4 linked regions of the Homo sapiens genome follow. The protein of the gene in region 4 binds, or shares a complex with, the protein of the main gene of each other region. Each region holds a gene or a part of one and is shown on either strand. Other genes may lie near its edges.

The links.
Region 1: TAF5 (region 4) and TAF3 share a complex: the UniProt entries of both Homo sapiens proteins name them as parts of the TFIID basal transcription factor complex.
Region 2: TAF5 (region 4) and TAF12 share a complex: the UniProt entries of both Homo sapiens proteins name them as parts of the TFIID basal transcription factor complex.
Region 3: TAF5 (region 4) and TAF13 share a complex: the UniProt entries of both Homo sapiens proteins name them as parts of the TFIID basal transcription factor complex.

The regions. Positions count from the first base shown.
Region 1 is NC_000010.11:7,821,505-7,828,528, reverse strand, and holds part of TAF3 (transcription initiation factor TFIID subunit 3), read right to left. Parts: intron 4,212-7,024; coding exon 3,969-4,211; intron 1-3,968. UniProt on the Homo sapiens protein: The TFIID basal transcription factor complex plays a major role in the initiation of RNA polymerase II (Pol II)-dependent transcription.
Region 2 is NC_000001.11:28,633,058-28,640,081, reverse strand, and holds part of TAF12 (transcription initiation factor TFIID subunit 12), read left to right. Parts: intron 1-7,024. UniProt on the Homo sapiens protein: The TFIID basal transcription factor complex plays a major role in the initiation of RNA polymerase II (Pol II)-dependent transcription.
Region 3 is NC_000001.11:109,073,004-109,080,031, reverse strand, and holds the start of TAF13 (transcription initiation factor TFIID subunit 13), read left to right. Parts: upstream 1-4,028; 5' UTR 4,029-4,084; coding exon 4,085-4,111; intron 4,112-4,966; coding exon 4,967-5,045; intron 5,046-7,028. UniProt on the Homo sapiens protein: The TFIID basal transcription factor complex plays a major role in the initiation of RNA polymerase II (Pol II)-dependent transcription.
Region 4 is NC_000010.11:103,363,091-103,370,988, reverse strand, and holds the start of TAF5 (transcription initiation factor TFIID subunit 5), read right to left. Parts: upstream 3,014-7,898; 5' UTR 3,000-3,013; coding exon 2,441-2,999; intron 1-2,440. UniProt on the Homo sapiens protein: The TFIID basal transcription factor complex plays a major role in the initiation of RNA polymerase II (Pol II)-dependent transcription.

The sequences.
Region 1 (7,024 bases), about 96 Mb from region 4:
TCTTGGATAAAACACACTGGGTACCAGCCATCAGAACTGTAACAGTCCAAGCAAAAATATGCATGTATAAAATATTTTCAAAGAGGTCTCACTTCTAAACATATAATCAGATAAAGCAGGCAATAACTCCTTCCACATCATCTCCTCATCTGTCATCTTCACACTGCGGATAATCACACAGCTCCTCAGTCAAGTACCTATCCAGCCCAGCTAGTAAGTCTGTTCCCTCAGATCCTCAGCACGTGATGGTAACACTACTTTACATTGATTCGTCTCTTTTTTTCAGAGACAGGGTCCTGCTATGTTGCCCAGGCTGAAGTGCAGTGGGCATTCACAGGCTCAATCATTGCGCACTACAGCCTCAAACTCCTGGGCTCAAGCGATCTTCCTGCCTTGGCCTTCCAAGTAGCTAGGACTATGGGTGTGCCACTGAATGCAGCTTGACACCGATTCCCCTTATAGCGTGACTTCACTAATGTATATTGTATTTCAATTCAAAAGTAAATTATTTAAGAGCAAGAAAAGAAAAAGGGGACGAGAACTAATATTCGCTGTCATGTGTTTTATTTTTTTTTGAGACAGGGTCTCGCTGTCACTCAGGCTGGAGTGCTGTGGTGTGATCATAGCTCACTGCAGCCTTGACCCCTGGGCTCAACTGATCCTCCCACCACAGACTCTGATAGCTGGGACTACAAGCGTGCACCACCATGCCCAGCTAAGTTTTTGTTTTTGTTTTTTTTTTTTTTTTTGAGACAGAGTCTCGCTCCGTCACCCAGGCTGGAGTACAGTGGCACAATCTCGGCTCACTGCAAGCTCCACCTCCTCTGTTCACGCCATTCTCCTGCCTCAGCCTCCCGAGTAGCTGGGACTACAGGCACCCGCCACCACGCCCAGCTAATATTTGTATCTTTAGTAGAGACGGGGTTTCACTGTGTTAGCCAGGATGGTCTCGATCTCCTGACCTCGTGATCCGCCCGTCTCCGCCTCCCAAAGTGCTGGGATTACAGGCGTGAGCCACTGCGCCCAGCCAAGTTTTTTATTTTTAGTAGAGATGAGGTCTCATGACGTTGCCCAGGCTGGTATCAAACTCCTGGGCTCAAGCTTCAGCCTCCCAAAGTGCATAAGCCATCACACCTGGCCCACTGTTATGTATTTTATATGTTAAACACTGTCCAATTTTATATAAATGTGTTAACAAAAAAAAATTACTTGATTCTCCATTTCCCCAATGTGGTAGGTGTTATTACACTTATTTTACAGATGAATATAAAGTTCAGAAAGGTAAAGTGACTTGGGAAGACCAGAAACTCAGTGACTCGCTGAGTCATGTCTCAGTGATGCCGTGAGGTCCACGCTGTGCCTCTCACAGCCTGCTGCCCCTTCAGGCCTTCTATGTGTGCACACTCGCCAGCTCCAGCTGCTGTGGAGGGAGACTTTCACAGGCTTTTTTGACATGAACCAAGCTGAGTGGCTGATAAGAGGGAACCCCATGGAAGGACCTTGCTAATAATATTTTAAGACCAAAGTCTGGCCTGTCTGTGGCTCTTAAGGAAATAAAAGGAAAATAAAGAGCATGGTGAACAGCATCATTATCAAAGGGGTTCACCTCTGTACCTCACTTTGCACCACTAATCAGAATACCAGGAACTTTCTAACATGCTGTACCCATGAAAAAAAAATATTTCAGATTGTAAATGACAAGAAATGGTCTTGTATGGTTATATTTTTAAATGGTAACCAAAGAATTGCATTTTATATCCTTTTCTTATGAAGAGGAGAACGTTTTGACAAGCATCTTACTGTACTGCCTACCACTTACTGCATCCTTATAAACCATATGCATATATTACAAATCAGCAATATTTTTCCTTCTTAATCCACATGTGTTAGATAAAAAGTGAAAAGTAGTGTTCTCAAGATTTGTTATTTTCCTTTTAAAATGTTTATAATTTATATTGTTTGCATAAAACTAAATGAGTTTCTTTTTTTGCTTCAAATAACCCAGAAAAGAAACCCAAAAATCTATAGTAATATAGTAATTTCAGCCAGAAGTCAGTATCAAAACAACACAAAACAAAACAAAAAAAACACTAAATTGTTTTTCATACTTCTTCACTACCTAATCTAAACCTGTTATCTTAGTTACATTTCCTTGCTAGTATTTAAATATGATAACCATAGCACTTTAAGAGAATTTTATTATGGAATATTTGCATGCTATAAAAATAAGACAAGAAGGACCAAATAGTTAAGTGTAGATTATGATCAAAGTCCTAGTTTTGGTTCTGGGCTGTCGGTGTGTTAGTATCATTCAGTAGAACCCACTGCAGCTAAGATCCAGAGCACCTAAATGATGAGCCACCAATTCACAACAAATCCCTACCACTTAGGTCCAGTAGCTGTCCAGTTTTTCAGATGAGGCAACCCTGACACACAGACTGTACAACAACTTATGCCAAATTTAAACATACTTCCTGAGACAAATAGGTAACACTTCAAAATGCTATTAAAGTAGAACCGATTCTAAGAAATGAATTGCAAGAAATTGGAACCCTTGGGCACTGCTGATAGGAAGCTTAGATGGTACAGCCACTGTGGAAAACAGTGTGGTGCTTCCTCAAAAATTAAATAGACAATTACTATATGATCCAGCAATTCTACTTCAAGGTACAGACCCAAAAAAAAACACCTGAAAGCAAGAATTTGAACAGAGATTTGCACATCGATGTTCATAGCGGCATTAATCACAAGAGCCAAAAGGTTGAAACAACCCAAATGTCCATCAGTGAGTGAATGGATAAACAAATGTGGAATGTACATATATTATTCTGCCTTAAACACACAACGAAACACACAACGAAATCCCGACACAGGCTACAACATGAATGAACCCTGAAGACATCATACTAAGTGAAGTAAGCCAGTCATAAAAAGACAAATAATGTCCAAGTCCATTTATAAAAGGTACCTAGAATAGACAAATTCAGAGAGACAAAAAAAGGAATGGTGGTTGCCAGGGGCTGGAAGTGGTGGAGAATGGGGAGTTATGTTTAATGGGAACAGTGTTTCAATTTGGGAGGGAACAAAAGTTCTGGAGAAGGATGGGGATGATGGCTGAATAACAATGTATACTTAATGCCACAGAACTGCACACCTTTACAATGGTCCATTTATGTTATGTATATTTTACAATAGAAAATCATAAGTAAAAGTAATTGCTGGCATCATTTGCATTGTCCTGAAGTATACAGGTTTTAGAATTTTTTACAAAATGAAAGAACTTATTGCAACTTTTCCAACTCTTATAAGAAAAAATATCGTGTACTTGTGTTAGAGACCAGAAATTACTTAAATATCTCCTTAGAATCTTAGTGAACTTAGTGATCAACATCTAAAATTATGCAGGAAAAAAGGGAACTCTGCAATTGGACTGACCATTATACCTGATTAGCTATCATTTTATAATCAAAAGTTCTATATGATCAAACAATAAACATTGCTCCTCATGATAAAAAACAGAAGTCTACACAATGTCACTGAATACTCACGATTCACTCACTGTTTCCAGTATAAAGCCATGGCATTCAACTCATGGCCTGAATAATAAGCGAGGAGGAAAAGAGCTACCCCAATTTTTCTTTTTGTTTCAAATGTTTTCTAATTTACCTAATATCCCATTCTCATATAATAGGGCTGTTGAAAGGCTTCTCTTTGGCTTCACTGTTTTCCTCTACTTGAACTTTACAAAGGAGATAAATGCTTCAGACATGACCTTGATTACACCGTGACTCGGCTTGGTAATGTCAGTTGCAAGTTTGTTGGTTTAAGGGTTAGAATAATTTGTAAGTAACAGTAAATGTTTCTATTGTGTTTCCAGAATTTATAAAGTTGACATAGCATGGAAAGCTAAGAGGATTAAAAATCCATTAAAATAATCACTAACATATGAAGAAGAAACACTCACAAACCTTCTTGAGAAGACACAATGGGTGGCAGGTAATCAGGAATGTATTCTTTTCTTTCCTCTGCATCTTTACTTCCAGGTTGAGGAAACTGAAGTACATTGTTCTTGCTAACAGGAAATGACGGAATTTGGTGTGGGAAGGTGACAGGCTCAATGTTGTGAATATAGTCTTCTAGTTCATGTAGACTAACCCCCATCAGCTGGAAAGCTTCACCAACATCATCCAAAATTGGGTCTGTTCGGCCATCTGAAACAAAGTGAAAAGCAAATCAAATTATTTGAAGAAATCCCACGAATATATTTTTAAATATTAAGAAAAAGTAGTAAGTAAATATGCAGCTCAGAATCAAACATTTTAACCTAGTTATTGGAAAGAATTTAATAGATTTTAAAGAGTATCACAGAATCATGTTTAAGCTGATTATTAAAGTCAAGTTTAAATATAATCAGACAACTAGCCAGAACACCACAGAAAAACCACATTCATGATTAGCTATTATAGAACAAATTTCAAAGTAGTTTACAGATGATCAAAAGCATCTGGAACAGCACCTGACACACAGAAAATGCCCCAAAAATAATAATAATAAAATAGTGTTTTGTCTTTTTTTTTTTTTTTAAGAGATGGCATCTTAGCTGGGCGCGATGGCTCACGCCTGTAATCCCAGCACTGAGAGGCCGAGGTGGGCGGATCACAAGGTCAAGGGTTCGAGACCAACCTGGTCAACACGGTGAAACCCCGTCTCTACTAAAAATACAAAAATTAGCCGGGCGTGGTGGCGCAGGCCTGTAATCCCAGCTACTCAGGGGACTGAGGCAGGAGAACTGCTCAAACCCAGGAGGCGGAGGTTGCAGTGAGCCGAGATCGTGCCACTACACTCTAGCCTGGGCAACAGAGCAAGACTCCATCTCAGAAAAAAAAAAAAAAAAGAGATGGCATCTTGCTTGTTGCCCAGGCTGAAGTGCAGTGGTATGATCACAGCTCCTTGCTGCCTCAAACTTCTAGGCTCAAGCGATCTTCCCCTCTCAGTCTCCTGAGTAGCTGGGACTATAAGCACATGCCACCATGCCTGGGTAATTTTTTTTTTTTTAATTTTGTAGAGATGAGTTCTTGCTATGTTGCTCAGGCTGGTTTTGAACTCCTGGCCTCAATCAATCCTCCTGCCTCTGCCTCCCAAAGTGGTGGGATAACAGGCATGAGCCAATGTGCCTGGCCTTTTTTTTTTTTTTAATCATCAAATAAGTAGTGTGCTGTGCTGACAAAGTCAATGTTGGTTACATTTCCTCTGTTGTTCCCTGATGCATCTGCAGAATCTTAAACAGTGGCTGGCACATAGCTGGCACTCAATAAATACCTATTGAATGAATTATACCATTAAATCAATTTTTAAAATCTAAGAATATTTACAAAGAAGGCTTAGATCATAAAAGTTTGGTTTTTGTTCGTTTTTTGAGACAGGGTCTCACTCTGCTGCCCAGGCTGGAGTGCAGAAGGGCAATCATGGCTCACTGCAACCTTACCTTCCCAGGCTCAAGCCATCCTCCTACCTTCACCTTCTGAGTAGCTGGGACTACCAGTGCACCACCAACATGCCTAGCCATAAAGATAATTTATCTATAAATTTTCAAATGTAATTAGAAAACACCACATAAAACAGAGATAAAAAGTTAGATATAGAGATTTTTTTCTTTACAAAAGCAAGTTTTTCTTATGCCTATTCTTAGCAGAGCTTAAGGTCTCTACATCTTTAAAAATGTCTATGAAAATTCCATTTTCTGATTTTCAATAGCCTAAAGGATTTAACTGAAATCCTGACTTTTTAACTGAAATCCTGAAATTTGATCACTTCAAACTCAGTATGTCTGAAATTAAATCACACTGTAAAATGAAAAAGAATCCAAATATTGCTAGAATTGGACGCATGTGTAGTAATGCATACAGAAACCTCTGGAAGGATATTCAGCCAATGGTTAACAGTTCGAGGGGTGGAAGCTGCAGTAGAGGCGAGGGCTGTGGTGGAAGCAGGAGACTGACTTCTAACTCCACATACTTCTGCAGTCTTTGATTTTTTTTTTCTATAAGTATGGGTTACTTCTGTGATGCATTAAAAAAAGAAAATAAATAAAACGAATACTCTTCTTCTTACTGAATGTAAACAGGCATTTCATCTCTTCTATTCCTATTAAAGCTATTATTACTCTCTCAGTCTAAAAAATATAATAATCTTAAATTCCTCCATATGCTTTGCAGCCTCAAACCAAAACCTGGTAGTTTCTAACCCTGTCCCCGTCCCCTTCGGCCACCTTTTTTTTTTTTTTTTAACCATGATTTCAGATTTTTTTCCTTTCTCTCTATTCTTACTGTCACTATCTCAGTATAGTCTCAAGTTCTGCCCACTTCAATCTCTTATGCACATCACTGTCAGTACAATTTTCTTAAAATACCACTTTAATCATACTATTCCCCTACTTAGGAGTATGCAATGTTTTCTACTACATGTTTTAATTCTTTTGTCTAGCTTTCAAGTCCTTCCATAACCTGATCTCACTCTGTTGAACATTTTACTCAGACACCCTTGGAATGAACTAGCTGCATAGGGAGCTGAACACCTTACTGGTACTTTTATTATGCTTAATCTCACCTGGACAGCTTAGTTTATGTGATTCTCTAAGCTGGAATACTCTATACCTTTATACAACCATACTTCACAGCTCAACTCAAATCTTATCTTTTCTGTGAAGTAATCCTACCCCAGAATCTATAGCCTACAGCCATCTCTCCTCTTATCCCTTTTACATTTACTCCCTGTACCATGCAAAAAAATATTACAGTACTAGTGTTGAAGAGTCAGTCTGAAAGATTTAGCACCTGCTTTCAGTACATGCCAACATATTTAACATATAATGTGACACCGACAGAGACATCTGCCCTTGAATGCTTGGAGACATTGTTACCCTAAGGCAATTCTTAAGTTCATTATTTGTTCATTATTTGAATTAATGGTAACTTCTAATACTTGCTTTAACTTGAGAACATTTCTTTTAGAAGAAACAAACACC
Region 2 (7,024 bases), on a different chromosome or scaffold from region 4:
CACCTGAGATCAGGAGTTCGAGACCCGCCTGGCCAACATGGCAAAACCCCGTCTCTACTAAACATACAAAAATTAGCTGGGCATGGTGGCACATGCCTGTAGTCCCAGCTACTCTGGAGGCTGAGGTGGGAGAGAATCACTTGAATCCTGGAGGTGGAGGTTCAATGAGCCGAGATTGTGTCACTGTACTCCAGCCTGGACAACAGAATGAGACTCTGTCTGAAAAAAAAAAAAAGTAATTTGAAAAACAAGGGCTTAAATTTGATTGATTTTCCAGTTAATTATATCATGAACTAGATGTTTGGGGGAATTGGGCTTAGTTAAAACTACTATTTTTTCCCCAGGGTTAGCCTGTACTATTTGCAAGCGCCTATTATATATAAATGATCAAAACTAACTTATACCAACTTATAAGGGAAAGCATACCGATGCCCATGTCACCACTTCAAAGTACTTGATGGTTTAATTAATGATAATTTATTCCTGAGTTAACATCCTTACCTATACTTGCAAAATGTACTTCATTTCATTTGTGGCTCTAGCGTTGACTTATTATAATAGGACTTCAAAATACCCGATCAGAAAATCATTGCATTATAATTAGAGCCGATAGGAACAAAGGACAAAAGGACATATTACCTTTTTTTTTTTTTTTGTGAGACGGAGTTTCGCTCTTTCACTCTTGTTACCCAGGCTGGAGAGCAGTGGTGCAATCTTGGCTCACTCCAACTTTCACCTCCCGGGTTCAAGCGATTCTCCTGCCTCAGCCTCCCATGTAGCTGGGATTACAGGCATGCGCCACCATGCCTGGCTAATTTTTGTATTTTTAGTAGAGACGGGTTTCACCATGTTGGCCAGGCTTGTCTCGAACTCCTGACCTCAGATGATCTGCCTGCCTCGGCCTCCCAGAAGGTGGGAGGTGGAAGTTGCAGTGAGCCGAGATCACACCACTGCACTCCAGCCTGGGCAATAGAGCAAGATTCTGTCTTAAAAAATTAAAATAGGCCAGCCGGGCGTGGTGGCTCACGCCGGTAATCCCAGCACTTTGGGAGGCCGAGGTGGGCGGATCACGAGGTCAGGAGATCGAGACCACGGTGAAACCCCGTCTCTACTAACAATACAAAAAAAATTAGCTGGGCACGGGCGCCTATAGTCGCAGCTACTTGGGAGGCTGAGGCAGGAGAATGGCGTGAACCCGGGAGGTGGAGCTTGCAGTGAGCAGAGATTGTGCCACTGCACTGCAGCCCGGGTGACAGAGCAAGGCTCTGTCTCAAAAAAAAAAAAAAAAAAAAAATAGGCCAGGTGAGGTGGCTCATGCCTGTAATCCTAGCACTTTGGGAGGCTGATGTGGGCAGATCACCTGAGGTCAGGAGTTCGAGACCAGCCTGGCCAACATGGTAAAACCCCGTCTCTACTAAAAATATAAAAATCAGCTGGACATAGTGGCGTGTGCTTATAATCCCGGCTACCTGGGAGGCTAAGGCAGGACAATCGCTGGAACCCGGGAGGCAGAGGCTGCAGTGAGCCGATATTGCGCCACTCCAGCCTGGGTGACAGAGTGAGACTCTGTCTCAAAAAAAAAAAAAAAAATTAGGCCGGGCGCGGTGGCTTATGCCTGTAATCCCAGCACTTTGGGAGGCCGAGGTGGGCGGATCACCTGAGGTTGGGAGTTCGAGACCAGCCTGACCAACATGGAGAAACCCCATCTCTACTAAAAATACAAAATTAGCTGGGCGTGGTGATGCATGCCTGTAATCACAGCTACTCGGGAGGCTGAGGCAGGAGAATCCTTTGAACCTGAGAGGCGGAGGTTGTGGTGAACTGAGATTGCCCCTTTGCACTCCAGCCTGGGTGACAAGAGTGAGACTCTGTCTCAAAAAATAAAATAAAATAAAATAAAATAAAATACAAAAATTAGCTGGATGTGGTGGCAGACGCCTGTAATCCCAGCTACTCAGGAGGCTGAGGCAGGAGAATCACTTGAACCCAGGAGGCAGAGGTTGCAGTGAGCCGAGATTGTGCCACTGCACTCCAGCCTGAGCGACAGAGCGAGACTCCATCTCCAAAAAAATAATAATAATAATTAAACAAAAAATAGGAATGGGGTCTCACTGCATTACCCAGGCTGGTCTTAAACTCCTATCAGCAAGTGATCCTCCTACATCTGCCTCCCGAAGTGCTGGGATTGTAGGCATGAACCATGACACCTGGCGAAGACATACTACTTTTGGTTGGGATTCTTTATGGAAAGCCCTAAAATATTTTGTAGGCACTATATCAGCAATGTTTACAGGCTGCACTGTGAAACAGGTGTGTTGGAGGCAGACAGACTTTGAAATTTCTGTGTATGGACTTAATTTAAGTCAGACAGGGAGGGTAAAGAGAGCAAAAATAAAAAAAAGAAAATCTTTTTTCTGGAGACGGAGTCTTGCTCTGTCGCCCAGGCTGGAGTGCAGTGGTGTGATCTCGGCTCACTGCAACCTCCGCCTCACGGGTTCAAGCACTTCTCCTACCTCAGCCTCCCGAGTAGCTGGGACTATAAGCGCGCGCCACAATGCCCGGCTATTTTTTGTATTTTTAGTAGAGACAGGGTTTCACCATATTGGTCAGGCTGGTCTTGAACTCCTGACCTCGTGATCCGCCTGCCTCGGCCTCCCAAAGTTCTAGGATTACAGGCGTGAGCCACTGTACCTGGCCTTTACACTGATTTTTAATGCTGAAAGGGACTTTAGAATTTGCCTGGTCTGGCCAGAGGCGGAGGTTGCAGTGAACCAAGATCGTGCCACTGCGCTCGAGCCTGGGTGACAGAGCAAAACTCTGTCTCAAAAAAGAGAAAAAGAAAAAAAGAATTTGCCTGGGCCAACTCCTAATTACAGATGTGGAAACTGACCAAAGATGGCATCCAGCCCTCTTGATTTGGGTTTTCCACAGTAACTCTCATCAGCCTCCTGCTGACCACTTGTTACCATTTTTTTCCAATCCACCATTCTTCTGTTAATCTCTGAAGTCATACAGAACACTTATATGGTGCCAGCACACATGGATATGTGTGTTGGGTTAGCAGCAGGATGAGTGAAATGAAACACTGGTATTTTTTGAGAGATGGGGTCTTGCTTTATTTTCCAGGCTGGAGCATGGTGGCTAGCCACAGGCCTATCACAATGTACTACAGCCTCGCACTCCTAGGCTCAAGCCATTCCGTCACCTCAGACCCCATAGTAGCTGGGATTATACATGTGCTCCACTGCATTGAGCAGTATGTTGATTTTTTTTTTTTCCCTGAGACAGGGTCTTGCTTTGTCACCCACGTTGGAGTGCAGTGGTGCCATCACATCTCACTACTGTATCAACCTCCTGGGCTCAAGTGATCCTCCCGCCTTAACCTCCCAAGTAGCTGGGACCACAGCTGCATGCCACCACGCCTGGCAAATTTTTTGATTTTTTTTTTTTTATTTGTAGTGACCAGATCTCACTATGTTGCCCAGGCTGGTCTCAAACTCCTAGGTTCAAGTGATCCTCCCGCTCAGCCTGCCAAACTGCTAGAATTATAGGTGTGAGCCACCAAGCCCACCCTGTACTTCATTATTAACTTAATTTTTTCAGATGAGAAAATTGAGGCATAAAGAGATTATGTAGCTTGCTCAATACAGCTGAAAAGTGGCACAGTTGGTACTTAAACCCAGATACTGCTACCATGGTTCATATCCTTGACCACTGTACTATACACTATACTACCTTTTGTTGTTGTTAGAGACAGGATCTTTTTGTGTTGCCCAGGCTGGTCTCCAACTCCTAACCTCAAACAGTCCTCCCATGTTGTCCTCCCAAAGTTCTGGGATTACAGACGTGGGGTCCCACATGTGGCCTATACTGCCTTTTTGATAAGTCAAAAGCAGCTGGAGCCTCAACTAACCAATCCTAATTGCACACTGGAAAAAAATCTTGCATTTCTATTGCTCTCGAGTCTCACAGACTGCAAATAATTGATCCTTTTTAGCTTATTTAGGCTGGGAAATATGAGCTCATTTAGATACATTTAGAAGCCAGAGAGGAAAGAAACAGCCAGGTAGAAAAACCAGTCATTAAGTGAAGTCATGCACCACAGTATAGGGCTTTTATGCCATCAGGCCAGTCCTCTTGATTCCAGTATTTTGCTTAAATAATAAATTACTAAACATTTCAGAGGTAAAAAAAGGTTTTGAAGGCTACCTTTTCTTCTGTTCCCCTTTCTCTTCACCTTTGTTTTGTTTTTTTAAAAAAAAAAAAACAGTTAATGGAATAGATGCACAGAGAATACCAGGGTCTTACAACTATTGCCAAGGTCTCCTTAATTCCTACCCTATGAAAAATTAGACCCTCTCAATACAATAATAGGGTTGCAGCTAGACTTCTGTTTGAAGTACAAGGTTGTTAAAGGGAAGCAATTAGGGCTTGTCATCCTCAGCCAGTCAACCACAGTTTAAAAGGAGGGAGGATAGGCCGGGTGCAGTGGCTCATGCCTGTAATCCCAGCACTTTGGGAGGCCGAGGTGGGCAGATCATGAGTTCAGGAGATTGAGACCATCCTGGCTAACACGGTGAAACCCCATGTCTACTAAAAATACAAAAAATTAGCCGGGTGTGGTGGCAGGCGCCTGTAGACCCAGCTACTCAGGAGGCTGAGACAGGAGAATGGTGTGAGCCCAGGAGGTGGAGCTGGCAGTGAGCCAAGATTGCGCCACTGCACTGTAGCCTGGGCGACACTGCACTGTAGCCTGGGCGACACAGTGAGACTCCATCTCAAAAAAAAAAAAAAAAAAAAAAAAAGGAGGGAGGATAGATGTGGTTTTTTTTATTTATTTATTTATTTATTTGAGACGGAGTCTTGCTCTGTCGCCCAGGCTGGAGTGCAGTGGCGCGATCTCGGCTCACTGCAAGCTCCACCTCCCGGGTTCGCGCTATTCTCCTGCTTCAGCCTCCGGAGTAGCTGGGACTACAGGCACCCGCCACCATGCCTGTCTAATTTTTTGTATTTTTTTTTTTAGTAGAGGTGAGGTTTCACCCTGTTAGCCAGGATGGTCTCGATCCTGACCTCGTGATCCGCCTGCCTCGGCCTCCCAAAGTGCTGGGATTACAGGCATGAGCCACCATGCCTGGCCTACTTATTTATTTTTTAGATGGAGTTTTGCTCTTGTTGCCCAGGCTGGAGTGCAATGGCGTGATCTCGGCTCACTGCAACCTCCACCTCCCGGGTTCAAACAATTCTCCTGCCTCAGCTTCCCGAGTAGCTGGGATTACAGGAATACCCCACCATGCCCGGCTAATTTTGTATTTTTAGTAGAAATGGGTTTTCTGCATGTTGGTCGGGCTGGTCTCAAACTTCCGACCTCAGGTGATCTGCCCACCTCGGCCTCCCAAAGTGTTGGGATTACAGGCGTGAGCCACTGCACCTTGCCTAGATGGGTTTATTTAAATTGAACTCTAACCCATACAATCGTGTTTTGATAGAATTACTAAATATTTTCAACAACCAATCACTGGGGGGTGGACTTTCCATATTTACTTTGTGACTCATAGCACACAATTTCTACATAGTAGGTAATAGTAAGGGTTAATTATTATTGTTCTCTCAAACTGTCCCACAGTTAATGCCTGTTTTTTGTGGGGTTTTTTTTTTTTTTTTTTTTTGAGATGGAGTCTCGCTCTGTCGCCCAAGCTGGAGTGCAGTGGTGTGATCTCGGCCTACTGCAACCCCTGCCTCCCGAGTTCAAGCTATTGTCCTGCCTCAGCCTCCTAAATAGCTGAGATTACAGGCAAGCGCCACCACGCCTGGCTAATTTTTTTGTATTTTTAGTAGAGACGGAGTTTCACCATGTTGGTCAGGATGGTCTCGAACTCCTGACCTTGTGATCCACCTGCTTCAGCCTCCCAAAGTGTGGAGATTACAGGCGTGAGCCACTGTGCCCGGCCAGTTAATGCCTGTTTTTGTTTTTGATTTTTATTTATTTTTTATTTATTTGTTTGAGACAGTCTCACTCTGTCATCCAGGCTGGGTTGCAGTGGCGCAATCTCGGCTAACTGCAACCTCCACCTCCTGGGTTCAAGTGATTCTCCTGCCTCAGCCTCCCGAATAGCTGGGATTACAGGCACGCGCCACCACACCTGGCTAATTTTTTTTTTTTTTTTTTTTTGAGATGGAGTTTCGCTTTCATTGCCCAGGCTGGAGTGCGATGGCACAATCTCGGCTCACCGGAACCTCCGCCTCCCGGATTCTAGCGATTCTCCTGCCTCAGCCTCCCGAATAGCTGGGATTACAGGCATGCACCACCATGCCCAGCTAATTTTTGTATTTTTAGTAGAGACGGGGTTTCACCATGTTGGTCAGGCTGGTTTAGAACTCCCAGCCTTAGATGATCTGCCCACCTCGGCCTCCCAAAGTGCTGGGATTACAGGTGTGAGCCAACATACCCGGCTAATTTTTGTATTTTTAGTAGAGACGGGGTTTCACCGTGTTAGCCAAACTGGTCTTGAACTCCTGACCTCAAGTGATCTGCCCGCCTCAGCCTCCCAAAGTGCTGGGATTACAGGCATGAGCCACTGCACCTGGCCCTGTTTTACTTTTTAAAATTTATTTTCGGTTGGATACAGTGTCTCATGCCTGTAATCCCAGCACTTTGGGAGGCTGAGGCGGGTGGATCACCTGAGGTCGGGAATTCAAGACCAGCCTGGCCAACATGACGAAATGCCATCTCTACTAAAAAATGCAAAAATTAGCCCAGCATGGTGGCACGTGCCTGTAATCCCAGCTACTCTGGAGGCTGAGGCAGTAGAATCGCTTGAACCCGGGAGGCAGAGGTTACAGTGAGCCAAGATTGGGCTCCTGTACTCTGGCCTGGGCAACAGAGTGAGATTCTGTCTCAAAAAAAAAAAAAAAAAAAAGTAGGCCGGGCTTGGAGGTGCATGCCCTGTAATCCCAGCACTTTGGGAGGCCGAGGCAGGTGGATCACCTGAGGTCAGGAGTTCGCGACCAGTCTAACATGGTGAAA
Region 3 (7,028 bases), on a different chromosome or scaffold from region 4:
TGCAATTTTTTTTTTTTTTGAGACGGAGGCTTGCTCTGTTGCCCAGGCTGGAGTACAGCGGCGCGATCTCGGCTCACTGCAAGCTCCGCCTCCCGGGTTCATGCCATTCTCCTGCCTCAGCCTCCCAAGTAGGTGGAACTACAGGCGCCCGACACCACGCCCGGCTAATTTTTTGTATTTTTTTTAGTAGAGACAGGGTTTCACTGTGTTAGCCAGGATGGTCTCAATCTCCTGACCTCGTGATCCGCCCGCCTCGGCCTCCCAAAGTGCAGGGATTATAGGCGTGAGCCACCACGCCTGGACTGACACTGCAATTTTTTTTCCCCCACTTTGTGTTTTGGATCTCAGGTTCACAGGATTGAATTATTCACATGCCGCAGCTCATGGCATAGTATTACAATTGGCCCTTCCAAAGTCCTTCACTTTTTATTTATCAATTTATTCCTTTTATCCTTATTCCCATTTCTCCTACACTGCAACTTTCTAGTGTGTTTAATGTTTACGCTTTTTTATATTTTCCTTTAAAATAAGTAGTATTTTTAATTTCTATAAATGGTATTATATTATAGATTTTATTGTTTCTTTTTTAACTTAGCACTGTTTTCAAGTTCTGTCCATGTTGCTAAATCTATTGCTTCTGATTGCTGCATTGTACTCCGTGCTGTGCATCCAGCATATTTTACCTATCTACTCCACTGATAACAGACACTATGAATGTTTTATGCCTGACCTCCTGGACACTGGATCACTACCTAAAAGCAGTTCTCAAACCTATCAGGCTCAACAATCTCCTTTAAATATTAATAACAAATACAGTGTCTCCATTATTGTGTAGTGAAATTCAAAAATAATATAATTTACTGTGGTAGGTGACCTCTCAGAAAGCCCCCAGTGATCTCCCCAGCAATATTCTTGCCCTTATGTAATCCCCTCTCCTTGAACTTGGGCTGCACTTTTTTTTTTTTTTTCTGAGATGGAGTCTTGCTTTGTCGGCCAGGCTGGAGTGCAGTGGCACCATCTCAGCTCACTGCAACCTCCGCCTCCCGGGTTCAAGCAATTCTCCTGTCTCAGCCTCCTGAGTAGCTAGGATTACAGGTGTGCATCACCACACCCGGCTAATTTTTGTATTTTTAGTAGAGACAGGGTTTCACCATGTTGGCCAGGCTGGTCTCAAACTCCTGACCTCCTGATCCGCCCACCTCGGCCTCCCAAAGTGCTGGGATTACAGGTGTGAGCCACTGCGCCCAGCCCTAGCTGCACTTTTTTACTTACTTCTAGTGAATAGAATAGGGCAGAAATTATAGGATGTCACTTCCAAAATTAGGTAACAAAAAACCTGTGATTTCTGTCTTTTGGGTTCTCCCACTTGTGTCCTCTGGAGGAAGGCAACTGGCACATTGTGAGCTGCCCTATGGAGTGGATTACATGGCAAGGAACTGAGGGAGACCTCTGGGCAACATCCATTAAAGAACTGAGGCCCTTAGTCCAACAACCTGGAGGAAGTGAAACCTCCAGCAACCTGTGAGTGACTCTGGCAAATTCTCCTCCATCAACACTTGAGGTATGACTGCAGCCCCAGCCAACATCCCGACTGCAACAGGAGGGACCTTGAGCCACAGGCACCCAGTTAAATTGCACCCACATTGCTGACCCACAGAAACTGTGTGATATTTGTTTTAAGCCACTAAGTTTTGGGGTAATTTGTTACAGCAATAAATAACTAATATATCTACCTACTCACATAATTTTGAAAATAACATAATATCCTAACAGGATCCAGTGATCCAGTGGCCAGGAGGTCAGGCATAAAGGTAATATAAAAGTAAAGTAAAAATAGTAACATTTGTTTCAATATATAAATACTCAGGTATGATGGCACTAGGGGGGGATAATGAAGATTTCAGATGCTTCTACCTATATGTAGAATTGCTTTGAATGCAGACTGATTTGGGTGAGTATTGTCGACCTAAAAGGAAGAAGCTGAGGCAAAATTAATATAAATAGAGAGTTTATTTGGGCCAAACTTGAGGATTACAACTCAGCAGCATAAAGTTGCCTAGAATATACACTCTAAGATTAGCAGCAGGTACAAGTGGATTTTTAAAGGAAAAGAATGAGGACAGGGAGTGGGCTGATACAAAGTTGTCTTTAAGGAGTTCTCATTGGTTCACAAAAATAACATTGATTAGTAATTGGCTAAACATTATCAAGCTATAGGGTGTGCGATATGGTGTCTGATGGGGCATAATTAGGCTAATTTATAACTAATACTTGTGGCAATAGCAAGCGGTTTTAAGACATAAATACATAGCTCAAAAGGGGGCAAGCAGGATGTGATTGCCTCTCATTTTAATGCCTCTTTGGGCCTAATAATTTAACTCACATTCCTCAAATCAAAGTTATTTTTTCATTATTCACTATTCAAATTATTACAAGTGATGTTGCTTTTGGTGACGTTATTTCTTGAAATGGTACACAGCTCTTAATGAATTCCAGACCAAACAAAATACAATTACTATTCAATTTTGGGGTAATAACATTCCTAGAAACTTCAACGTACATTAAAAGTGTGGGAAAATGCTTTGTGTTTATTTTTTTAATTTTTATTTTTTGAGGTGGAGTCCCGCTCTGTCACCAGGCTGGAGTGCAGTGGCACAATCCCGGCTCACTGCAACCTCTGCCTCCCGGGTTCAAGCGATTCTCCTGCCTCAGCCTCCCGAGTAGCTGGGATTACAGGCGTGCGCCACTACGCCCAGCTAATTTTTGTACTTTTAATAGAGACGGGGTTTCATCATGTTGGCCAGGATGGTCTTGATCTCCTGACTTTGTGATCCGCCCACCTCGGCCTCCCAAAGTGCTGGGATTACAGGCGTGAGCCACTGCGCCCGGCCGCTTTGTGTTTATTAACAAAGATAGGTTCAACTCTCAGATAATTAGTTTTCACTCACCGAATGTTCAGCAGGACATTCAGAAATCGTGTGTATTACGGGATTTTCTTTATGTAGCATCATCTGTTACACTGTAGGGACATTTATATTATATCCCTAGCTCTGGCCTTCCGATGCCTGTGGTTTTGCCAGCCATTGTTCTGACCAAAAGCCTTCCCCGGTGGACACGGTGGCTCACACTTGTAATCCCAGCACTTTGGGAGGCAGAGCGGGGCAGATCGCTTGAGGCCATGAGTTCCAGACCAGCCTGGGCAATGTGGGGAAACCCCATCTCTACTAAAAATACAAAAATTAGCTGGGCATTGGTGGTGTGCGCCTGTAATCCCAGCTACTTGGAGGCTGAGGTGGGAGGATGGCTTGAGCCCAGCAGGTCTAGGCTGCAGTGAACCCTGATTGCGCCACTTCACTCCATCCCGGGGGACAGTGAGGTTGTGTCTCAAAAAAACAAAAATAAGGCCGGGCATGGTGGCGCACGCCTGTAATCCCAGCTACTCGGGAGGCTGAGGAAGGAGAATCACTTGAGCCCGGGAGGCAGAGGTTGCAGTGGGCCGGGATCGCGCCACTGCACACTTCAGCCTGGGCGACAGAGTGAGACTTCGTCTCAAAAAAAAAAAAAAAAAAAATCAAAAAACCTTCACAAAATTTTAAATGCTTAGTCTCGGGACACCATCTCTTGGAAATTTGTGATGAAGCACAGTATCCCCAATAATTAACACAGTGCTTAGAAACAGTGGAACTACAAATCTTTAAAATGATTTAAAAGCATATTTGTCTGATAAAGGACTGCTGGCTTGCCCTCCTATGATCCATAGCTTCGCAGTCCCCAAACAAGAAGCTGTGATTCAATACGCAGTAGCAAATTCAGGGTGACAACGAGATACTCGCGACCTAGCCCGTGATTTCCTTTTCTTTGTTAGTTTTCAATTCCTTCGGGATTACAGGGAGGCGCTCCGGCCTCCTCCCTTAGAGACTGTCGCATTTCCGCCGCTAGGCCGGAAAGCACCACCGTCCTCCCGCAGGCCGCAGAGGGCTAGGCCCAGCTACGGCCCCGCGCGTCACCGGAAGTGAGGCGGCGGAAGTAGTGTAACCAGCTGGGAGCCAGCCGGCAGGACGCTGTGAGTTGGCGTGCTAGTGGGATGGCAGATGAGGAAGAAGACCCCACGGTGAGTGACCGTCTCTGTCCAAAACCTGTCTTTTCTTCACTCCTTCGGGCTCAGTAGCGGAGGCAGAGTTCAGGATCGGGTCTGCTTGCCTTAGTGAATTCAGCGGACAGAGTTCGGGGACTTCACGCCCTAAGGATTGATCATTTTAGAAAGTGGGGAAGGACATGAAGGAAGAGTAGGTTTTGTGACCCCTTTCCCCTTGATTTTGGTCTGTATTTGCCAGACACTGAAACACGTACAGAATCATCAGAGATCAAAACTAACATCTATTAGCGCGCACTATGAGCCAACAGTTCAATTGTTAACAAAACTGTACTTACTGTGAAGTAATGGGAAAAGAATGCATTGAAAGTCAGACAGCCTGGATTTCAAAATTTCCATTCTCTCTGAGCAAGTTATTTAACTTTGAACATCAGTTTTCTTTTTATAAAATAGGGTTACGGGCTTACTTAAGGAACGTTTTTAGCACTGTATAAGCAAATGCATAGGAAATATTAGTTTTGCTTACTACAAAGTCTACAAAGGTAGACTTTGATTCAGTATCAACTGTTTAACAGTAACAGTAGTAATAGGCCACCTTAGTTGTTTAAAAATAAAACTTATGGTCATTGGAACTCTTACAAGTAGAAGCAGTAGGATTATTAGTTAGGAACATTGTAGAAGCCATTTTTGCATGAGTTGGAAGTTGGACTAGATACATAGGCTCCTTCAATGCTAAGGTTTCGTGGTTTTTTTTTTTGCTGCTTCCTTTGGCTTTCTGGCCTATCTGTTGAAAAGGAAAAAAAAATGTCATTATTAAAATATCAAATGCAAGGCAATTATTTGACATTTCTATATATACATTTTAACTTCTAGTTTGAGGAAGAAAATGAAGAAATTGGAGGAGGTGCAGAAGGTGGACAGGGTAAAAGAAAGAGACTTTTTTCTAAAGAATGTAAGTAGTATTTGACAATGATTTTGTTATAGATGATGAAAACTTTTGGACATGTCCTTTCAAAGTAGCTTTATTGCTTTGAATGTTTCCCTGTAGGGATAATATTCTCAGACTAGCCTATCAAATTCTGTTTAACTTTTGAATCAGATAGTACCAATCCTAACCCCAATTGTGTGTGTGTGTATAAATTGCTTTTTTTTTTTTTTTGAGACGGAGTCTCGCTCTGTCGCCCAGGCTGGAGTGCAGTGGCGCAATCTCTGCTCACTGCAAGCTCCGCCTCCCGGGTTCATGCCATTCTCCTGCCTCAGCCTCCTGAGTAGCTGGGACTACTGGCGCCGGCCACCACGCCCACCTAATTTTTTTTGTGTGTTTTTATTTTGCTTTATTTTATTTTTTTAATTTTTTTAGTATTTATTGATCATTCTTGGGTGTTTCTCAGAGAGGGGTATTTGGCGGGGTCATAGGACAATAGTGGAGAGAAGGTCAGCAGATAAACATGTGAACAAGGGTCTCTGGTTTTCCTAGGCAGAGGACCCTGCGGCCTTCCTCAGTGTTTTGTGTCCCTGGGTACTTGAGATTAGGGAGTGGTGATGACTCTTAACGAGCATGCTGCCTTCAAGCATCTGTTTAACAAAGCACATCTTGCACCGCCCTTAATCCATTTAACCCTGAGGGGACACAGCACATGTTTCAGAGAGCACGGGGTTGGGGGTAAGGTTATAGATTAATAGCATCCCAAGGCAGAAGAATTTTTCTTAGTACAGAACAAAATGGAGTCTCCTATGTCTACTTCTTTCTACACAGACACAGTAACAATCTGATCTCTCTTTCTTTTCCCCACATTTCCCCGTTTTCTATTCGACAAAACCGCCATCGTCATCATGGCCCGTTCTCAATGAACTGTTGGGTACACCTCCCAGACAGGGTGGCGGCAGGGCAGAGGGGCTCCTTACTTCCCAGATGCGGGCGGCCTGGCGGAGGCGCTCCTCAGTTCCCAGACGGGGTCGTGGCCGGGCAGAGGCGCTCCTCACCTCCCAGACGGGGTGGCGGCCGGGCAGCGGTGCTCCTCACCTCCCAGACGGAGTAGCGGCCGAGCAGAGGCGCTCCTCACATCCCAGACGGGGCGGCCGGGCAGAGGTGCTTCCCCACATCCCAGGGGATGGGCAGCCAGGCAGAGACGCTCCTCAATTCCTAGACGGGGTGGCAGCCGGGCAGAGGCTGCAATCTCAGCACTTTGGGAGGCCAAGGCAGGCAGCTGGGAGGTGGAGGTTGTAGCGAGCCGAGATCACGCCACTGCACTCCAGCCTGGGCAGCATTGAGCACTGAGTGAGCGAGACTCCGTCTGGAATCCCGGCACCTCGGGAGGCCGAGGCGGGCAGATCACTCGAGGTCAGGAGCGGAGACCAGCCCGGCCAACACGGCGAAACCCCGTCTCCACCAAAAAATACAAAAACCAGTCAGGCGTGGCGGCGCACGCCTGTAGTCAGGCAGGGAGGCTGCAACGATCCCAGATCGCTGCAGTACAGTCCAGCCTCGGCAACAGAGGGAGACGGTGGAAAGCGGGAGACGCAGACGAGGGGGAGGGGGAGGGAGAGCTTTTTTTGTATTTTTTGTAGAGACGGGGTTTCACTGTGTTAGCCAGGATGATCTCGATCTCCTGACCTTGTGATCCGCCTGCCTCGGCCTCCCAAAGTGCTGGGATTACAGGCGTGAGCCACTGCACCCGGCCTATAAATTGCTTTTTAAGTGAGCAAATGTAATTAGTGTTTTAATTTAGGGCAGAAGAACATACCTCCATTAGTTTTCCTCTTGCCTTTACAGCAGTAGAGAGGCTTCTTTGACTGTAAGCCACAGGTAATAATGGATCCTGCAACAGGTGTTGAGGGAGAGTAGCAAGTGAGTTGGGGCTTGGGCTTTGGACTAAGGCCCTGAACAAAGTAAGAAGGTGGTGAACAGCTGGGTGCAGTGGCTCACGTCTGTAAT
Region 4 (7,898 bases):
GACTACAGGCGTGAGCCACCGAGCCCGGCCTTCAATCACATCTGCACACATTTCTATTTACGGATTACAATGAGGTATGAATACAATGCTATGTATGAATACTTCATTTCTGGCAATGCTGCAAAAATTAGGCCTCATACAGACTAATTTGGCTAAAAGCTCTGCACTGGGTAATTCAATAAACATTTATTGTTAGCTCAGGATCACCTTTGATACCTTATACGGTATATGAGTTTTACTGCATGGATTTGTGACAACAGTTGCTGGGAGAAAGGAGGGGCTCAGGTTTCAGGTACATACACAGAGGCATAAACTTATCCATACCAAACATTTTACATATAGATATTATAAGTGCCTCAAGTGGCCGGGCACGGTGGCTCACGCCTGTAATCCCAGCACTTTGGGAGACCAAGGCGGGTGGATCACAAGGTCAGGAGATCGAGACCATCCTGGCTACCACGGTGAAACCCCGTCTCTAATAAAAATACAAAAAAAATTAGCCAGGCATGGTGGCACGTGCCTGTGGTCCCACCTACTCGGGAGGCTGAGGCAGGAGAATCGCTTGAACCTGGGAGGCGGAGGTTGCAGTGAGCCAAGATCACACCACTGCACTCCAGCCTGGCCGACAGAGCGAGACTCAGTCAAAAAAAAAAAAAAAAAAAAGCCTCATAACCACTCATTTAATAGAGAGAGAAAATTCAACATGAGAATGACCTGCCTCCTGACAATATTAATGTAAAAAAAAAATTTTTTTTTTGAGACAGAGTCTCGTTCTATCACCCAGGTTGGAGTGCAGTGGCGCAATCTTGGCTCACTGCAACCTCAGCCTCCCGGGGTCAAGTGATTCTCCTGCCTCAGCCCCCCAAGTAGCTGGGATTACAGGCATGCGCCACCACGCCCGGCTAATTTTTGTATTTCTAGTAGAAAGGGGGTTTCGCCATGTCGGCCAGCCTGGTCTCAAACTCCTGACCTCAGGTGATCCACCCGCCTCAGCCTCCCAAAGTGCTGAGATTCACAGGCATGAGCCACGACGCCCGGCCAATACGAAGGTAAAAAAAATTAAAAACTAAAAAAATAATGACAATCAGCATCACACAAGTAAATGCAGCAAAGACAAAAAGGTCTGTCCAATGCCCATGCCTAAACACATGGCTCTCAAGCTGCCATATGTCAATACTCCTTAGAAGCACTTATTCAAAAGTGAAGATTCCCAGATTCCACCTCTAGAGGACCTGATTCACTAAGTCTGAAGTGATGCCCAGGAACCTGCATCCTCCAAAGACTTAACACTGGTGGTACTCAGCCCATATATATTTTTAAAATTTCAGCCGGGTGCGGTGGCTCATGCCTGTAATCCCAGCACTTTGGGACGCAGAGGTGGGTGCATCACGAGGTCAGGAATTCAAGACCAGCCTGACCAATATGGCGAAACCCCATCTCTACTAAAAATATATTTTTAAAAATTAGCCGGGCGTGGTGGCGCGTGCCAGTAGTCCCACCTATTCGGGAGGCTGAGGCAGGAGAATCGCTTAAATCTGGGAGGCAGAGGTTGCAGTGAGCTAAGATCACGCCACTGTACTCCAGCCTGGGCGACAGAGCAAGACTCCGTCTCAAAAAAAGAAAAAAAGAAAAAGAAAAAAAATTCAACTTTTAGCTGAGATTCAGGGGGTACATGATGTGCAGGACTGTTACAAGGGTATATTGTATGGCGGCCGGGCGCGGTGTCTCACGCCTGTAATCCCAGCACTGTAGGAGGCCGAGGCAGGTGGATCATCTGAGGTCAGGATTTCGAGACCAGCCTGACCAACATGGTGAAAGCCCGCCTCTACTAAAAATACAAAAATTAGCCGGCCGTGGCAGTAGGAGCCTGTAGTCCCACCTACGCGGGAGGCTGAGGCAGGAGAATTGCTTGAACCCGGGAGGCGGAGGTTGCAGTGAGCCAAGATTGCGCCACTGCACTCCAACCTGGGCAACAGAGCAAGTTTCCGTCTCAAAAAAAAAAAAAATCTATAAAGTATTTATCAACACATCTTTTAAGAGGAACTAAAGAAATAAAGAGAAAATAAAGTACTTACAGTACTTAAAGTACGCTAGTACGAAACTGTACAAACACTGTTAGTGTCATGCGGACCTGCCCAAGGCTCAAAAGCCCAAATGAAAGGAAAGGGACCAAGAGCGTGAAGATCCCGCCTCTCCGCGCTCACCTTCCCCATACATCCCTCTGCTCAACAGCTCTCCTCAGCTTCTCACTGGAACTGACAGCTCGGAAGGGGGTTTGACTGCGCAGCCCGCGCACTAGAGAAAGGGGCGGGCATGTGGCCCTAGAGGCGGGCCCAGGAAATTCAAAACAAGCCCGCAGAGGTGCAGGCCTGCCAGCCCCTGCCTTACCGGCTTGCTCCCCTTCGCGGCGGCCGTACCTACCCGGGACCCCACGGCTCACCTTTACCCGGAGCCGCAGGACCTGAGGCTGAACCTGAGACGACCGTGGCCCCCGAAGCGCCAGTGCCCGGAGGGTCGGGGGCCGCAGGGCCAGGGGCCGAGGCGGTCACCCGGCTGAGAAGCGCGCTGGTCACCTCAGCGCCGGCGCTGTCCACCTCTCCCGGGGCTCCGGAGCCCGCCACTGCCTCCTCCAGCAGCCCGGCCTCACGGCGCAGCGCCTCTTCGGCCTCGCGGAGTTTGCTCTGCCGTAGGAACTGCAGCACGGCCAGTAGAGTCTGTCGGTCATGCGGAGCGCCGGCGTCCGGAGCAGCGGCGGGCACCGGGGCCGCCCCCGCCGGGGCAGCGGCGGAGACAGCCACCGTGGGCTTGGGGGTCCCGCCATCCCCGCCAGTGGACGACGACGCCGCAACGTTCCCGCCGCCGCCGTTGGGGCCGTTGTTGGTAGTGCCGCCGCTACCCTCGCCTGCGCCGTCCCCCGCCTGCGGAGGTAGCAGCGTTGGCGGTCCCTCAGGCTCTAGCTTGACCGCCACCTCCGTCTGCTCCTCCGCCAGCGCCGCCATCTTGCGGCTGAGCCACCTCGCGCCGTCAAGCGTGATTGCATTTTCGCCACATGGAGGGCGGGGAGGAGCATTTCACGACAACTCTAGTAGGCCATTTACGGCAGTAGGAGGAGCGAAAAGGAAGGAGAAACGGAATAGGAAAGAGAGCAACTTTCAAAACCGAGCGAAAGAAAGGCAGGAAGTGGGCATTGGTGACCACCTATTACATTTGCCTGAGAATAATTGCCATTTATTGCAGGCCAGCTATATTTAGGCATTATGATAGATGTTTTACATTATGTGATCTCCTTCAATTCAATAATCTTTTTCTTTTTTCTTTTTTTTTTTTTTGAGACGGAGTTTCGCTCTTGTCGCCCAGGCTGTTAAGCGATTCTCCTGCCTCAGCCTCCCCAGTAGCTAGGATTACAGGCATGCGCCACCACGCCCTGCTACAATTAAATAATCTTATGAGGTAATATTATCCCCACCTCGCAGATGGCTCAGTTGAAACCAAGAGAGGTTAAATAACTTACCAGAGGCAAGAAGAAAGTCCAAATGTCAACATTCGAATCCACGTATTTAACTCAAAAACATATACCATTTGCCAGAGGGAGGCTTCCGAGATACTGGTAGTTTTACATTTTGACCTGAATAGTGCTTACTTTTTTTTTTTTTTTGTCATTTTTACTTTTGTAAAAGTTAATCGAGCTGCATGCATTACATTACATTTATTTATTTATTTAACTTTTGAGACGGAGTGTCGCTCTGTCGCCCAGGCTGGAGTGCAGTGGCCCGATCTCAGCTCACTGCAATCTCTGCCTCCTGGGTTCAAGCGATTCTCCTGCCTGAGCCTCCCGAGTAGCTGGGATTACAGACGTGTGCCACCACGCCCGGCTAATTTTTGTATTTTCAGTAGAGACAGGGTTTCGCCATGTTGGCGAGGCTGGTCTCCAACTCCTGACCTCAGGTGATCCACCGGCCTCAGCCTCCCAAAGTGCTGGGATTACAGGCGTGAACCACTGCGCCTGGCCCGTATACATTACATTTCAATAAAAAGTTTTTAACGCCAGGTGCGGTGGCTCACGCCTGTAACCCCAGCACTTTGGGAGGCCGAGGCGGGCGGATCATGAGATCAGGAATTAGAGACCAGCCTGACCAACACGGCAAAACCCCGCCTCTACTAAAAATACAAAAAATTAGCCAGGCATGGTGGTGCGCCCCTGTAATCCCAGCTACTCGGGAGGCTGAGACAGAAGAAGAGCTTGAACCCGGGAGACGGAGGTTGCAGTGAGCCGAGATCCCGCCACTGCACTCCAGCCTGCGCGACAGTACGAGACTCCGTCTCAAAAAAAAAGTTTTTAAATACCAGAATGTTGTGGTTGTGAAATATGTACGTTATGTATTCATGCTATTATCCGTTATTACAAATAAACCATTTTAATTGTATATTTAAAAATCATGGCCACACGCAGTGGCACATACCTGTAGTCCCAGCACTTTGGGAGGCCGAGGCGGGTGGATCACCCGAGGTCAGGAGTTCGAGACCAGCCTAGCTAACATGATGAAACGCCATCTCTACTAAAAATATAAAAATTTAGCCAGGTGTGGTGGCGGGCACCTGTAATCCCAGCTACTCGGGAGGCTGAAACAGAGGAATCACCTGAACCCAGGAGGCGGAGGTTGCAGTGAGCCGAGATCGCACCATTGCACTTCAGCCTGGGCAGCAAGAACAAAACTCCGTCTCAGGAAAAAAAAAAAAAAAAAAAAAAATCATATATGCCATTTTGCAATGTGCTTCATAGGTTATAAAACCCTCCTGCATATTTTATCTCATTGGAAACTTGTAACTCTGTGGAATAGGTACAGACGAGAAAAGTGAGCCTGAGACATTGGGAAAATCTAGCACAGCCGTTCAAGTTATTGGTTTTGAGGTCTTACCAGCGTCCTTTGACCCTGCTTACTTTTAAAAAATATTTTATTTTATTAATTAGAGATCTGAAGCCTTACTATATTGCCTAGGCTGGCCTTGAACTCCTGGGCTCAAGCAGTCTCTCACCTCAGCCTCCCAAGTAGCTGAGACTACAGGCACAGACCACCTGGCTTGACCTTGCTTACTGGCTGAATAACCTGGAGCAAGTTACTTAATTTACTATGTCCCAGTTGCCTAATTTTTTTTTTTTTTTTTTGAAACGGAGTTTCACTCTTGTTGCCCAGGCTGGAGTGCAATGGCGCCATGTCGGCTCACTGCAACCTCCACCACTCAGGTTTAAGCAATTATTCTGCCTCAGCCTCCCGAGTAGCTGGGATTACAGGCATGTGCCACATCAGGCCCAGCTAATTTTGTATTTTTAGTAGAGACAGGGTTTCTCCATGTTGGTTAGGCTGGTCTCGATCTCCCGAACTTAGGTGGTCCACCTGCCTCGGCCTCCCACAGTGCTGGGATTACAGGCGTGAGCCACCACGCCTGGCCCCAGTTGCCCAATTTCTAACAAAAAAATAATAGTAGTTACGTCATAGTGTTTTGAGAATTAAATGAGGTAATGCATATGCAATACCTAGTATGTAATAAATAACCATTGGTTATTTCTACTTCACTTTAAAAGGTGTTCTGTAAATGTTTGATTAAGAAAGTGCAAGCATAATGTTCAAAAGTGATCCCGAGACTGAAATGCAAAGCTAATCTAGGGATAGGGGTGGCGGCTCATGCCTGTAATCCCAGCACTTTAGGAGCTGAGATGAAGGTTGCAGTGAGCCGAGATTGTGCCATTGCACTCCAGCCTGGGCCACAGAGCGAGACTCCAGCTCAAAAAAATAAATAAATAAATAAATAAAATAAAATACTGAGTGTGACCCATTAAATTGATCTTAACTGAATTAATTTTTTTTCTTTTTTTTTTTTTCTTTTTTTTTGAGACGGAGTCTCACTCTGTCGCCCAGGCTGGAGTGCAGTGGCCGGATCTCAGCTCACTGCAAGCTCCACCTCCTGGATTTAGGCCATTCTCCTGCCTCAGCCTCCCGAGTAGCTGAGACTACAGGCGCCCACCACCATGCCTGGCTAATTTTTTGTATTTTCAGTAGAGATAGGGTTTCACCGTGTTAGCCAGGATGGTCTCGATCTCCTGACCTCGTGATCCGCCCGCCTCGGCCTCCCAAAGTGCTGGGATTACTGGCGTGAGCCACCGCGCCCGGCCTGAATTAATTTTTTTTCAATCTCAGCTCACTGCAAATTCCACCTCCCAGGTTCAAGTGATTCTCATGCCTCAGCCTCCCGAGTAGCTGGGATTACAGGTGTGCACTACCATGCCCAACTAATTTTTATATTTTTAGTAGAGATGCGGTTTTGTCATGTTGGCCAGGCTGGTCTCAACCTCCTGACCTTAAGTGATCTTCCCGCCTCAGCCTCCCAAACTCCTGGGATTACAGGAATGAGCCACCGCACCTGGTTAACCCTGTGTTTAAAAAATAATAATAGTAATAATTCTATAACCCCTCACACTTTCTTTTTCTTTTTTTTTTTTTTGAGACGGAGTCTTGCTCTGTCGCCCAGGCTGGAGTGCAGTGGTGTGATCTCGGCTCACTGCAACCTCCGCCTCCCAGGTTCAAGCAATTCTCCTGCCTCAGCTTCCCAAGTAGCTGGGACTACAGTCGTGCACCATCATACCTAGCTAATTTTTGTATTTTTAGTAGAGACAGGGTTTCACCATGCTAGCCAGGCTGGTCTCAAACTCCTGACCTCGTGATCCACCTGCCTCGGCCTCCAAAAGTGCTGGGATTACAGGCGTGAGCCACTGCGCCCGGCATAACCCCTCACACTTTCACACACTAGTTTTAGCATCCATTGCTGAATTTTTTTTTTTTGCGTCAGTTATTAATACCATGGTTACCAATTGGTGCTTTTCTAATTTCATCATTTCTCCTACACTTATTAGTTGGTTTTCTAATGGAAGGAAGAAATTTTCCATCTCTTGGTTGGGCACAGTGGCTCACGCCTGTAATCCCTGTACTTTGGGAGGCTGAGGCCGGGGTGGGGGTCACTTGATGTCAGGAGTTTGAGAATAGCCTGGCTAACATGGTGAAACCCCATCGCTACTAAAAAAAAAAAAAAAAAAAAGCCTGGCATGGTGGCTCACGCCAGTAATCCCAGCTACTTGGGAGGCTGAGAGGAGAATCATTTGAACCCAAGAGGCGAGGTTGCAGTGAGCCGCCATCATGCCACTGCACTCCAGCCTGGGTGACAGAGGAGACTCTGTCTCAAAAAAAATAATAATTTTCTGTCTCCCTATTTATTTATTCACACAGTTACTATCAACATTTTTATTTTGATATTGTCACAAATTTGATCATTAGGATCTCCTTCAAACTGGCTCCTGTATTTCTTTGACATGGCCACATAATTGTTTGAGCACTTCCTTCTTAATTTCTAGCACAATGAGACATTCTACACTCCCTTTATATTGTCCCAGGCTAGAGTACAGTGGCACATTCATGGCTCACAGCAGCCTCGACCTCCCTGGGCTCAGGTGATCCTCCCACCTCAGCCTCCCAGGTAGCTGAGACCACAGGCATGTGCCACCATGCCTGGCTAACTTTTGTGTTTTTTGTAGAGATGGGGTTTTGACACGTTGCCCAAGCTGGTCTCAAACTCCTGAGCTCAAGTGATCCACCTACCTTGGCCTCCCAAAGTGCTGGGAATACAGGCATGAGCCACCGTGCCTGGCAAGTTCCTTTTATTGGTATTAGAAACCAAGACCAGAGTGTGAGGTATGTAATTGCTTCTAGGCCCTCTCAGCAGATAGTGCTGAGAAATGTACATACATCTACATGTACATATCTATCTATATCCATTTATCTTTATCCTTAAGTTCACCTTAAATGTCTCCAATTCTAATCTAGTAAAGCAGAATTTATTCTATCCATTCC